Homo sapiens: one gene and its partner. The protein of the gene in region 1 purifies or fractionates together with the protein of each later gene. This does not show direct contact. Each region holds a gene or a part of one and is shown on either strand. Other genes may lie near its edges.

Region 1 (7,724 bases):
GTCTCAATATCACCCAGACCCAGAATGCAACAGAATCTAAATGCCACATATACTCAAGTATGCAAAAAACAATAAGCACAAATATATAGTCCAACGACAATTTTTAATTATATGAGAATTAAAAAGGATGAAAGTTGGAGGCAAGGAATAGAAAAAGCACAAAAGATCAAAAGCTAATTTCAAGGAGTCCATCCTGAAGGAACCAGGAATGGTGGGTACAGATGCCTGACCTCCCTCCAAGACAATGTGCCAACAGGCCAGTGGAGAACAAGGTGGGATCTGAGAACAATGTAAATTTGGATGTTAAAAGAGAACACAAGCAAAAGCACCACGCACAGTGCCAGGCAGAGACAGGCATTCAAATATTTGCACATTGAATGAATTAATAAACAGACACTTACACAAAGAGAATCTGGGGCCGTGCTTCCAACCATACCATAAGGCACTTTAAGTCCAGGTCATCTTTCTTTGACTTAAAGCTCAGGCTAAAAATCTAACTTCATGAAAAGCTGAGTCTTCCTAATAGTTTCCACTGGCCTCTGTTCTAGCCCAGCTCTGGCAGTGAGGCCCGGTAAAGTTCCTTCCTAAAGACACTGCCTGCAAGTCTCAAATCCGGCACACGGGATCCATGGTGGAGGGATGTTAATGGGAGTGGAGGCAAACAGGCCAAGGGGTGGCAAGGAAAAAAACTATTTCTGATCCACAGAATGGCAAATAACACCATAACGAGTTCTTGAATTAGGTTTAATCCTGGACAGAACCAAATGAAAATAAAAACCTACTTGTATTTATAATTAAATAGACAGAAACAATGAAAAAGTCTCACCAACTTTAGCCACCCCTGATTGAAAGGAGTTTTAACAATTCTTTCATCCATGCTGGCATTCCAAGTTTTCCATTATATCTCAGCCTCTCATTGTTCCAGCACTATTGATGGAATCTCAATGCCAAAAATGGCGCTGGTCATCAAAATTATGATTAGCTGATCTACCCTAGAGTCAGTTTATCAATGTTTCAATGCATACATCAATTCTATTTTTTATTATTTCAATTTAAATCATCTGTGTCTCTATTCCCTCCCTCCCTCCAGAGGCTGCTTTCCCACACCCTTCTTTTCACCTGCATTCTAAGTATTCCCTTGTTCTTTCCTTTAGCTCCCTCTGTTCCAAAAGTAAAAACGAACTGCAGGAACTTATGTAGAAGGCAGGTTTACTACAGATAGCATACCTACATGTTACATATTATATACCATATGTTGGCTAAATACAGCTAGCATATCCTGCTTTAAGTGCTTCTGAGCCTGGGCAGACCCCCGTGTGCTCATGCTGCTGATGTGAACCATCCACCATCATATTTCCTAGGGGTTCAGGTGCCTTCCTCCAGCCTGCTGAAGAACATGACCAAATCTCAGAGCCCTCAAAGCCACAGCTATCGAGAGGTGACTAAGCCCCTGCTTCTGTCAGCCCAGGAAGGCCAATTCAAGAGTCTTATCTACCCCCTAGATTTCCACGACCTGTTCCACTCAAGCTAAAAATTCTGAAACGCACTTTTAGAAACTGTCGTTCCAGAATCCCATTAGCTCTCCTAAAAGGGCTGAACATCAAAAAATTATTCAACCCAAGCCAAGTATCCTTATTTTGGCTGGAATTCTGCCAAATAACCACAAGAGACTGGTGCGGTACAATCGGCATGGAGTGAAGCTTGCCAAATTTGACCGGAGAACGACAAGCCTCCATGAATAAGCTCTCATGAAAAGGTAAACCATTCTTCAGGATGAGGTTTGTCTGCGATTTGAAAAGTCAGATTCAAAGGACTCTTGTTCCTTCCTAAGAGAAGAGGGAACCAAAATTGAAATTTTCGAAACTCCTGGGTATTTACAGTTCACTTTTACCAAGATGTTTTTAAAACTAAAAACTAAAATTTAAAAAAAAAACCCTTGTTCTGAATAATGCAATAATGTCTTCTACATAATGTTTCAGCTATTATTTCTAGAAAGTAATTCTGTTGCCAGTGATCTTGAATGTACTTGGGTACCAAAGAAAAAAGACACCTGTGCCTGGCAGGTCGATACGCTACTAATTTGCCCGAGGTACGAACGAAACAGAAGATGCTGATTTCTGGATAAAACGTTCTGCAGTGCCAGGTAAAAGAGGTCACATGCCCTGAACGGCCGCCGCTCATTTAGAGTGATGCAAAAGCTCCTCAGATATTAATTTTGTTAGAAATTCGGGGAATCAAGCAACCTAAGATCAATTCATTTAGACAGCGGGTGACTGGTACTTTCCAGTTTCCTTTTTTCAACGGACTCAGTGCATCCTAGCCTGATCTCTTATAAAGGGGTAGGCAAACTCGGCACCAGGTGCCCATGCATTTCAGGGAGGTACACACAGGACCTGCAGGGTCACCCATGCACAGCCCCACCCCGAATCTTCTATCCGCCCGAGATGGGGAAGACCCTTCCCCAGAAATCCTGGGCAGCGTTTTAAGTCACCGCCTGGCCAGGCTGAGTTTCCGTCCGCGTCCGCTCAGGACTGCGGGCACAGCGCCTCGTCACGCCCCGCATCTCCCACCTCCCGCCGGCCCCGGCGGCTGTCCCCAGAGCTGCGCCCGCGGCCGGCGACACGCGCCGCAGCGGCGCGCTTATCCGCAGCGGCGCAGCCCGCCCGCCCGCTCACTCACGCGGGAGGCAGCGGCGGCGTCTCCATTGTGGCTCCTCTCGGGCTTCAGAACGCAGGCACCGACCAACACAGCCAGCACCATTCCAGCCGCGGACGCCGGCACTGCCCGCCCGCCGAGCCGCGTTCCATCCGCCCCGGAGGGGGCGCCGCGCTCTCCTCACCGCGCGCCACCACCTGCGGCGGCGGCCCCCGCGGCCATGGCCCGCTCGGCCGGGCGCGCTCCGTCTACTGCGCGGCTCCCGCGCTCGCCCGAGTGCGGGGCGGCGGCGACGGGACCGGCGGGCGCGCGGGCTCGGCCACTTCCGGGTTCGGCCCCGGCCGGCGCCGACGCTGTGACGGGACTGCGATGCGGCCTCCCGCGGCGGCCGAGTACCCCTCCCTCGGCGCCTCCCCTTCCTCCTGCTGCTGCTGCTGCCGCTGCCGCTGCCGCTTCTGCTTCTGGAGGCGGGCGGGCGGGCGCCAGCCGGGTGCGGGGCGGGCGTGCCCAGACGCTGGCCCGCAGGCCGGGACGCGGGCGGCGGCCGCCCACAGCGGGTCTCTGGATCGCCGGGACGGGGGCGCTGGAAAATGGGAGCGGAGGGGGTTCTCCGTGCAGAAAAAGGGCGGCCGAACGCACGGCGTAATAATGCTCGGTATCCACTTGCTGCTCTGCTTCGCGGGCGTGTACACGTTATTCTTTTCATTTGTGCCTGTACCCAGGGAGATGGGAAGGGTAGGCATAACCAACCAGTGTCCTTACAAAGGGTGGCACTGAGGCAAGAAGAAGTGATTTGCCTGTCCAGTGTCCCAGGCAGGAAGCAGGCTCTCCCTCCTCAGTATGCTAGCCATTCCTTGGACAAGTGAAGTGAGCACCTGCTAAGCAAGGTTTTAGTGCTGCGGCTGTGACAGCAAAACCAAGTCTTTCTGCTTGTGGAGCTGTCCATCTAGACGGGGTGACGGAAACAGTAAGTGATGCTTACCATGAAGAAACATAAATGAGGATGAGGAGAGGGAAAGAGATTTTAGAAAGAGTGGTCAGAGAAGGCCTCTCAAAAGGCATGAGTTAAAGAGATGGAATAACAGGGGCTTTGAGTAATGCAAAGAATGCCTAGGGCAGAGGGAAGAGCAGCGTGGAGACTGCTAAGCAAGATCCTGCCTGCCTTGTTGAGGAACGGGAAGGAGAACAGTGCAGCTGGTGGTTCTCCAAGTATGCCCGCTGGAAGCAGTAGCACCTGCGAACTTGTTAGAGATGCGAATTTTCCAGTCCCACTTTAGCCCTACTGAACCAGAAACTCTGGGGGTGGGGCCCAGCAGCGTGTGCTTTAACAAGCTTTCCAGATGATGCTTGCTGGGGCCGCGAGGGTGGGAGACCCTCTAATGAAGCAGAGTGAGGTCAGGAGGACGGCGGCAGGAATGGGTGTGGCGAGGAGTAATCACAGATCACCCAGGCCTTGCAGGCCGTGATAAAGGACTTGGCTTTTACTGAGATTAGAAGCAATTAGAAAGTGGTGAGTAGCTTGATCTGATCATTAAAAGGATGACTTTTCTGGGATTTGTTTGAAAATATCCCACAAAAAGAAGGACAGAGGTCGGGCGCCGTGGCTCACGCCTGTAATCCCAGCACTTTGGGAGGCCGAGGCGGGCCGATCACCTGAGGTCGGGAGTTCGAGATCCGCCTGACCAACATGGAGAAACCCCGTCTCTACTAAAAATACAAAAAATTAGCCGGGCATGGTGGTGCATGCCTGTAATTCCAGCTACTCGGGAGGCTGAGGCAGGAGAATCGCTTGAACTAGGGAGGCAGAGGTTGCGATGAGCCGAGATCGTGCCATTGCACTCCAGCCCGGTCAACAAGAGCGAAACAAACTCCGTCTCAAAAAAAAAAAAAAAAAGGACAGAGAAGTGAATAGATGAATATTTGCAAAATGTTAATTTTTGAGGCTAAGTGTTGGGTGCATAGGGGTGGTCATCATTTATGTGTGTTTATGTGTATGTTTTAAAAGATAATAATGGGCCGGGCGCGGTGGCTCACGCCTGTAATCCCAGCACTTTTTGGGAGGCCGAGGCGGGCGGATCATCTGAGGTCAGGAGTTCAAGACCAGCCTGTCCAACATGGCGAAATCCCGTCTCTTCTAAAAATAGCCGGGTGTGGTGGTGGGTGCCTGTAATCCCAGCTACTGAGGAGGCTGAGGCAGGAGAATCACTCGAACCCAGGAGGCGGAGGTTGCAGTGAGCCGAGATCGGGCCACTGCACTCCAGCCCAGGCAACAGAGCGAGACTCCGTCTCAAAATTCATAAATAAATAAAAGTTCATAATACAAAGTTTTTTTTAAAAAAAAAGATGACTGATTGCTGTATGGGCAACATGCATAGCGAGGCAAGAGAGCAAGCAAAGAGATTAGCCTAGCTGGGATGAAAGGTAAGGATGGCTTGGATTAGAGTCCGAGTGACTGAGAAAAGTGAACAGGTTCTGAATCTGTTTAGAAGGTAAAGTACTCAGGAACTGCTGACAGATTAGCATATAAAAGAAAGATGATCCTAAGGGTTTTGTTCTGATCTCTGGGGAGAATTGAGTTGCCCTTTACTGGGATTGGGGATATTGAGAAAGAACAAATATTGGAGGGCGGGGTGGAGATTGTATTTGTAAACTCTGATTTAGATATGGTAAGTTTGAGATGTCTGTTAAACATCCATGTGAAGATAGGTGTAGACAATTAGATATATGTATCTGGGGTAGATATAAATTTGGAAGTTGTTAGTATACAGATGGGTATTGAGATCAACTAGATTATGTAGCTAGAGAAAAGAAGTAGACCAAGAAGTAAGCCCTGGGGCACTCCAACATTAAAAAAGAAGAGGAGGAGGACTCAGCAAAGGCGATGGTAAAGGAACAACCAGGGAAGTAGAAGGAGATCCAAGGCAGGTGTCTTGGCAGCCTAGTGAAGGGTTCCAGAAAACAAACAAACAAACAAACAAAAAACCCTTAGTACACTTCAGCATGAGCTAACTTCTCTGTATGATGGTTCTGTTCAGAGCCATAATAAAACTTCCTACTTTACAAGGTTGTTTTAAGAATTAAGTGAAATAATTGATGTAAAGTATATAGCACATAAATGTATAATGGAAGCACTTAATAAATGTTAGTTGCTGCTATTATTTCTGTACACTTCTGTGGCCATCAGTTATACCTTACTCTGCTAGGAACTGGGTTAAGTCCTAGAGCCAGGAGATACTGACTTAGGTTTTACCAAACCTTTGGCCTGACTTCCTTCTGCATGCAAACTCAGTGAGTAGGGCTGACTCATCAGCCATTTCAGGAACTCTTTTGAGGCGGGGGGTGGGAGGTGGACTTTTTCTATTGCTTTTGTATCTTCCCACCCAAAATAGTGTTATGTGTACAAATAAATACTAAAAAATTACGATGTGTCCGTCTGACAGCTAGGCACATAACTTCAAACCATAGCCCCTCTCACATCCTCCTCTGGGTTAGTTTTGTCTATCATAATTCTTTGCTTAAGGGGTTCGACTCATCTAGCATGCTAAATGTCAACCCAAACCTTTCTTTTTTCACAACCACCCCCATTTGTAGGCTTCACAAGTATACTGGGAAAGAGTACATTACCCACATACAATTCAGCCTTACTTGGAGTTAAATGTCACACCAAAACTGGTCCTCAGCCAGATACAGCCTCCACCCTTAACCTGTCTCTCTGCTCACAAGAGAAAGTAAACAAAAATGCTTGACAGGCTGAGCCCAAATCCAACATTACAGTGGGGAAGAAACTTTTTAACACTTCTTCCTTTGACTCTCAGTTTCACTATCTTCTCAAGTGAAGGACACTAAGGATTAGGAGCGGCTACCTAAGACCACCAAGCTCTTCTCTTTTTCATTTCCCTTGACATAAGGTCTGACTGAACATGCAACGGTGTTGACCTCCCCTTGCGTAGGTTATTACCTCCACCCACGTTTTCATCATTCTTTAGCTGAGCCCTTCACACCCTTGGCAGAGGAATGAGATCTTACAAAAGTCCATCTGCCTCCTATGCTGTTAAGATAGAACAATTCCTTAAGCATGTTAGTAACCATAATCTAAAGCTAATGTAAGTAAATGGAATGTATCACTTGTAAAGAAAATGGAACCACTCAGATGAACAAGTCCGTGACAGTGGCTAGTGGCAAAAATCCCTTAGATTGAGCTGAAATCAGATGTTGCAATAGAACTAATGACATGACATGGCAGGCACAAACACATCTCATGGCAAGTATCCGGGAGCTAAGAATTGCTCCTATAAAGAAAAGACTTAACTTCGCTGAAGAATACAAAACCATTAGATGCTATATTTGTAATTCCTTCCAGTGCAAAGATGGCAAGTATGAAAAGATTCACTCATTCAAAATTAGGTACTAAAGAAGATAAAGGCCTTCTAAAAAGTCGCATTTTCTATCCTAAAGACTTAGTTTAAGTTGCTTTACTAATTTTAAATTAGGGATTTTGCTTTTAATATTTTGACTTAGGAGAAACTTAGCAGCATAATATATTAAGAAGCATTTCAAAATGTTCTTTTGATACTTTGCGGTTTAGCAAATGGATTTGTCAATACATTAAGATATGTATTACAAGCTTTATGGTGTCAAATGGGGTGACGTGCGTCTTGTGCTCCAGATCAATAGACAATCCTTAAGTGATGGAGTCCATTGTTTCCATGAATCCAATTTACTCTTCAAATGCTTGCCTCCTTGTTTTTGTAGTCTGTAAGATAGCAACTTTACTTCCGACACAGCATACCTCCCCATTACCCCGTATCTGAGCTTCCTGGAGAAATGAATGCAAATTGTTTGCTGCAAAATTTAATTGAAAATCTGTTGGAATTGGTACAGGAAGTATCCAAAAATAGGTTTCACACTAATGTATATCAGGTAAGCAATTTCTCTGTGTTTTAAGAAAAGGAAATTTACTTAATCTATTTTTACTTATATATAGCTTTATGGTATCTATTTATGTAGTCTGGTGATGTAATCCCTCATAGAATTATCTAGGACTGAACATCTTTCTACACAGTCAGCAG
Region 2 (7,024 bases), on another chromosome or scaffold:
AAAAGGCTCATAAAGTTTTGTGGATTTTGGAGCATTTGGGATTTTGGATATTCACATGTGGGATGCTCAACCTGTATGGACAATGTAAGGGCAACAATTGATAACAGTGCCTGACATTTAGTAGGCACTCATTAAACATCTGCTAAGTGAATGAATAACACAGAGTTAAAGATATGGAAAGTGGGCCGGGTGCAGTGGCTCACGCCTGTAATCCCAGCACTTTGGGAGGCCAAGGCAGGCCAATCACTTGAGGTAGGAGTTCAAGACCAGCCTGGCCAACATGGTGAAACCCTGTCTCTACTAAAAAAAATACAAAAATTAGTCAAGCGTGGTGGCGCATGCCTGTAATCCCAGCTACTTAGAAGGCTGAAGTGGGAGAATCGCTTGAACCTGGGAGGAGGAGGTTGCAGTAAGCTGAGGTTGCGCCACTGCGCTCCAGCCTGGGAGACAGAGTGAGACTCCATCTCAAAAAAAAAAAAAAAAAAAAAAAGATTTGGAAACTGGTCACTGTCAATCACTGGATATACCAATCATTTCAGGGAAATTCAGAAAATCATTAGAGCCAATAAAAATTTCAAGATAAACAGTTTTATCCATTTAACCACTGCATTTGGCGGATAAGAATGTCCATTTCAAAAAGGTTAGAGATGAATTTCAAGACATTTATACCACCAACTTTCATACAATTCAGTACTATGAGAAAGCAATTTGATACAATGGTGAAATGGTCAATAATACCTGGCTTTAATGGCAAGGATATCAATGACATATAAAATTTCATTTTCTAACCCTGTGACCAAAACAAACAAAAAAAGTCTATAGCAGATTAACACATTCACTTACTGGTTGCCATTAATCAGCCTTTTCACTAAGCAAATGACAGTTTCCACTTGTTTGTTTCTATAATAGAAAAATAAACCATGCATGCAATAACAAGGCTCCTATATATTAACAACAGCTAGTACATTCAAGCAGCTATTCATTCCTTCGCAGCATAAATATACAATTGTGAAGATTACTTACTGTTCATTTATCATTCTCTCCATTCCCTAATCCCCAACCACACTAGCAAATCAGAAAGATAACGTGCTGCCTGGACAGAACACCTTACATGTTTGTTTTTTTTGAGACAAAGTCTCACTCTGTTGCCCAGGCTGGGTGCAGTGGCACGATCTCAGCTCACTGCAACCTTTGCCTCCCAGGTTCAAGCAATTCTCCTGCCTCAGCCTCCCAAGTAGGTGGGATTACAGGTGTGTGCCACCATGCCCAGCTAATTTATGTATTTTTAGTAGACACAGGGTTTTACCATGTTGGCCAGGTTGGTCTTCAACTCCTGGCCTCAAGTGATCCGCCCGCCTTGGCCTCCCAAAGTGCTGGGATTACAGGCGTGAACCACCATGCCGGGGCGATGTTTCCTTACTTACGCCACACAGTAAAGTTTGAATACTACAGGCAAAAGCTTTCTACTATCTTACTTATAAAATGTTCATCATAAGACCTCTCATAGAGGATGTGAAAGAAAGAGAGAATAATGTAAATTGAAAACACCACAGAATTTGGAGAATTGTATTTGAATCTTGGGACTGCCATTTATTGACTATGTGATTACTCAACTTTAGAACCCTTTGGAATCTGTTATCCAGCTGGAAAATGAAGATGACAACATTTTCAAACTCTTTCCCTCCTTTTCACAGCTGTAAGTTCTTAGAGAAATAAAAGTTTGAAAGCATGCTTTAAGAAGTAAAGTACCAATATAAATGATAATTATTATTGCTCTCTGTATGAGTAGTAGTATTACAACAACTGTGAAACTATTCAGGCAAATACACCTGTAAAATTTAGTTATTCTGGGCCCCACAACTGTAATCCCAGCACTTTGAGAGGCCGAAGCAGGCAGATCACCTGAGGTGAGGAGTTCAAAAACACCCTGGCCAAGATGGTGAAACACCGTTTCTACTAAAAATACAAAAATCAGCTGGGCATGGTGGTGGGCACCTGTAATTCCAGCTGCTTGCGAGAGTGAGGCAGGAGAATCACTTCAACCTGGCAGGCGGAGGTTGCAGTGAGCTGAGATTGCGCCACTGCACTCCAGCCTGGGCGACAAAGCAAGACTATGTCTCAAAAAAAAAAGAAAGAAAAAATTTAGTTATTCTCCAAAGGGTGCAAAAATATATGTACTATCAGCACCATAAGATGGGGCAAGAAAAAAAAAAGATGTCACTAAAAACAACAACAACTAGAGAATTAGTCTATCTACGAGTAAATTTTAAAAATACGTATATTCCACACAATGAATTACTATATAGTTGTTAAACAGTTAAGATTCTTTTACTAAAAATATAGAGATTGCTAAATACTCGATTAATGAAAAAGGTTCAGAGTTGAATGGAAAAATAATCTACTTGGGGAAAAGGGGGAGGGGAAGATACAGATAAATAGAATCTAGCATATGTATACAATGTGTCTTGAAGACTACATAAGAAACCTAACATTGTGTACTTGTTGGGAGTGGGACCCATGGTCAAGGAAGAAAGTAGTAAAGCAAACTTGTTTTTCCTTTTCATTTCCTTTTATACTGTCTATATTTTTTAAATCTATTATTATATAATAGTAAGTTGTAAATTTTTTAAAAAGCAGTACAAGACTGTTCTTCTCCCTGAGCAGTACAGATTTTCCCCAATCTATAGATTCTGCCAAGATACTTTTACCTGCATTGAAGTAGGGTAGTTTGTCATTAATGTACATCAGACAGTAAGCACTAACATTTCTCAGGCCTCCATAGGAATCTCTTTCAACTTCTTCCCAGGAAGATTCAGTAACAGAGATGTCATTGTACTTGAGCCAGCTCTGTCGGGGTTGATTATAGATATAGGCCCAATAGTGTCCAGCATTTGCTTGTCCTTCATGAACAAGAACTGCATGCAAGCGATAAGGCACCTGTAAGTCAGAATGTACATTCCCCAGTCAGGTGAAGCAAAGTAATCTGATAAAGTTTAGGTTATTAAGAAATTACTGTTTATGATGTGATTAATGTGGGGTTCATATTAAAACATCTTGTTGATTCAAGATGAAGTCCACAAAAACACAGCCTTGGAATTGATCAATTATGTCTCAGTTCCAAAACCTTGAAAACCAGATCGCTGAACTACATGACCTCTCTGAAGACTCTTTCAACTCTAAACTCCTCAGATCTAAAACCAAACATAACCTAAACATATGCATCCTTCTAATTCAAAACTCTGTTTATCTAAAAATAGAATCACCTTGACCACTCATGCTGAAAATGCTTAGCATATTTGGGACCTACAAAGGTTAGCAGCTATTTTGTTCCATGCCTATTTTATTTGGCAACAAAATTTAAGTTAACATATTTAATTCAGCCACATGCTTCTTAGAGTTAAGTGACCACTTATCTATCTGGAGTGAAGACCCTTTTAATGACATACTTGTTTGTTACAACATTTGAAAAGCACATTTGTGTATTTTCAATATAGAGAAAATAGAGCAATGCTTAAATGCTAACTAAATACTAGTAAAAGAGATGAAAGTCAGTCACAGAATCAAATTAAATTTACACTTACTTTGACCTATTTTAATTACTGGTGAAGATTTTTGAATTAACACAAAAGAAAAAATGGGGAAGCCTGCGTTTTACATGGTGCATTCCTGTTAAGCAATGGGACTGTGCCTCAATGCCATTCTAGAAACAGGGCTCCCCTCCTCCAAGCCATTCTGCCCATTCCAGTCATTCATACAGAAGCCACTGAAAGTCCATGCCCCTAACCAGAATAGGTTCAGAGACACTCCTGGAGGCTCTTTACCCCTCCATTCCCAGAATTTATTCTAACAAACACTTCTGTGGATAGTTAAGAATTTCTGTCCTAACTCTCTTTTGGAATTTATTATTACAGAAATAAAGCTTGAACGCATGTTGTTAAATTAAAGATCTTGAAGAATCATGGAACTTTGGGAAAGAAAGGATAACTGTTCTCTAGTTCAGTTTTTCCCACTGCACTACTTAAAGTACCATTTTGTAAGTAATTTTTATTAGTATCTGACAGCAAACCTTTCTACAATATGAAAAAATTCCATGTGGCAGAATTCAAACAAGTATGTGTTAGGTCCTGTTTTTGGTAAAAGGTATATTGCTTTCTTTAGCCTAAAATAAAGAAACAGAACAACATCAATTTATATCTTAAGTTTATTCTTTTATCTTAGGGGGATTCCCATTGGGTTTAAAAGAAAACTATCAAATTTGATTTTTGTATCTACCATTAGCACATGCCTTGACTACTTTCCCATCAATTTTCATTCTACCTGACGAAGGAGAGGATCGCAGTACATCTGTTCAATAGTCTGAGTAGTACTTGCAATACAAGTCTTTAAATCTGTTTGGAAAAAGAAAAACAAAAGCTTCACTAAAATGATCTCATTCTATGTCACACAGGCTACTTTAACTAAGCAAAGAATATTGCTAGGGTCCTAATGATTTCAGCTTCCCTCTATGAACCACGAAGCAATATACAGTTTTAAAGCAGCTAGTACTTTAGGTTATGAAAGCTTTTAGTTCAATATAATTACATTAAGGTTTTAAAACATTATTTTTTATAATTGCCAAAATTTCTTAAAGAGTAAGCTGTTTAGGAAAAGATCTTAATGGGTCACTTGGCTGTAAAATGTATGCCTCAGACAGGATCTGAAATGAGAAAGCAGAACAAAGGGTAAGGCTAAATTTCTCTGAATAGGAATCTGGGAAGAATCTGTATTTTCCATCATCTTTTTGTTCCCTAGACAAAAGGAGACAGGAAGGGGGGTAAGGTTAGTCTGAGCAATATGGGCAATGAGGTCAAAGGGCTTTTTAAGAATACAATGCTGAATAATCCAATTTTACATTGTGCATACTGCTCAAATACCTCATTAACCTTCAGTAAAGCATGCTTCCTATAGAAAAGACTGAAGAGTAGAAGTCCAGAAAAGCTAAATGCTAAATCTGGGTCAACTTAAGCTGGAGTTCAGATAATCTACCACAGAAACAGAAATCAGTTGATGCAGAAAAATCTCAGCAAAGGTGATCATTTCCCAGAAATTTTGAGGGGGAGATCTTTCCATATCTGTATAATGGGGGTGTGTGAGCCAAGTTTACAGGGCACTAAAAGTGCAAAAGAAGTCACAATTACCATGTCAAAATTCAAAAGCATGGGCCAGACGTAGTGGCTCACACCTATAATCCCAGCACTTTGGGAGGCCAAGGCAGGCAGATCAGTTTTGGTCAGGAGTTTAAGACCAGCCTGACCAACATGGTGAAACCCCATCTCTACTAAAAAAAAAAAAAAAATCAGCCAGGTGTGGTGGTACATGCCTATAATCCCAGCTACTTGGGAGGCTGAGCCATGAAAATCGCCTGAACCCGGAAGGCGGAGGTTTCAGTGAGCTGAGATTGCACCACTGCACTCCAGCCTGGGTGATAGAGTGAGACTCCATCTCGGCGGGGGGGAAATTCTGTAGCATGTACAGTAATGTCAGGAAGTGTACCGAGGTGCTTAACCTCCAAATAGTCAAAAAACAGAAAAAGCAAAGAGTAACTGACAAATTTTAAAAGAGCCAACCTTGTATATCTTGTTCAATCTCACTCCTCCATCTCTGAAGACAGGTCTTAACAAAATTTATCTCCTCATCTGTGACTGTTCGTGGAGCTGGCTGTGAAGGCATTTCCATGGAAGACCGAGAAGATGTCAGTGGTTTAGACTTGGGTAAAGAATCTTCAGGAGAAGAAAAGGTACTTTCAACATCCTGAGAAGAGCTTTCTGTACTTGTACTGAGGAAGACAAAAATCATGCTCATATGATAATTTCCAAAAGATACCTTGGCCTAAATTATGTACTTTGGAAAGCAAGATGCTATATGAAAAAGTACAGGTATTCAGTGAGCATTAACTCTATAAAGGTACAGAGCCAACCTTTTTCTCTATCATCTCACGTACCACAACTGGCCTGTGAGGTAGATACTTTTCTATCCCTATTTTACCAACTGTGAGCCTAAGGTTTAAATAAATTAAGCAACATGCCCAAGTTCACCAAGCTGGAAGGTAATGAAAATGAATCCAAAGCCAGATCGGCCAGTCTTTAGCTCATGTTCTCTGATCACTGATTATTCCTTCCCATGAGGATGGGAAGAGAAGGAAAATGGAAAAGAGAAGACTAGGCCTGGAAGAATCAAGGAATCAACTACAGAGTTTACAAGATGAAGCCAACTAAAGTGACACTATCCTTCCTGGAACAAAATACACAGAAGGAAGAAAAAGGAAGCATCAGCTGAACATACAACTCACAGGAATACACACTAGGTGACACCTTGGAGAGTTCTGAGAGAAGGGCTTCAAGTCAAACAATCCTAGCTCTACTACTTTAGCTAAATACCCAAGGAAAAAAGTATTAATATCTCATCTACAAAATATAAATCTTAAGTTCTTTACGTCTTTTCTGTAAACTAACAGAGAATAAAGCATATCAAGTAAATGTTAATTTCTCTATTGTCAGAGTAAAACTGCAGGTCAACAAACCAGCAGGAATATAAAATAAGCTTCTAATTGTAGTTAGGTTTCTCTTTTACACCAAAGCTGAAGAATATAAACTTCCTTTACTTTGACTTAAAAAAAAACTCTCACTCCTGCCGGGTACGGTGGCTCACGCCTGTAATCCCAGCACTTTGGGAGGCTAAGGAGGGCAAATTACCAGGTCAAGAGATCGAGACCACCCTGGCCAACATGGTGAAACCCCATCTCTACTAAAAATACAAAACTCAGCTGGGCATGGTGGCACGCCTGTAGTCCCAGCTACTTGGGAGGCTGAGGCAGGAGAATCGCTTGAACCCAGAAGGCGGAGGTTGCAGTGAGCTGAGATCATGCCACTGTACTCCAGCCTGGCGACAGAGTGAGACTCCATCTCAAAAAAACAAACAAACAAACAAACAAAAAAACCTCACTCCCTCCTCCTCACTCTCTCACATGCACAAAATAATGGAGGAA

The links. The genes of interacting proteins can lie anywhere in the genome.
Region 2: the proteins of KLHL2 (region 1) and USP28 purify together in Homo sapiens (affinity purification with mass spectrometry; 3 studies listed by BioGRID and IntAct, with this or other methods). This does not show direct contact.

What each region holds. Positions count from the first base shown.
Region 1 is NC_000004.12:165,202,858-165,210,581, reverse strand, and holds the start of KLHL2 (kelch-like protein 2), read right to left. Parts: upstream 3,022-7,724; 5' UTR 2,761-3,021; coding exon of another isoform or gene 2,706-2,760; coding exon 2,680-2,705; intron 564-2,679; exon of another isoform or gene 440-563; coding exon of another isoform or gene 402-439; intron 1-401. UniProt on the Homo sapiens protein: Substrate-specific adapter of a BCR (BTB-CUL3-RBX1) E3 ubiquitin ligase complex that mediates the ubiquitination of target proteins, such as NPTXR, WNK1, WNK3 and WNK4, leading most often to their proteasomal degradation.
Region 2 is NC_000011.10:113,809,568-113,816,591, forward strand, and holds part of USP28 (ubiquitin carboxyl-terminal hydrolase 28), read right to left. Parts: intron 5,816-7,024; coding exon 5,607-5,815; intron 4,389-5,606; coding exon 4,318-4,388; coding exon of another isoform or gene 4,309-4,317; exon of another isoform or gene 4,188-4,308; intron 2,938-4,187; coding exon 2,709-2,937; intron 1-2,708. UniProt on the Homo sapiens protein: Deubiquitinase involved in DNA damage response checkpoint and MYC proto-oncogene stability. Involved in DNA damage induced apoptosis by specifically deubiquitinating proteins of the DNA damage pathway such as CLSPN.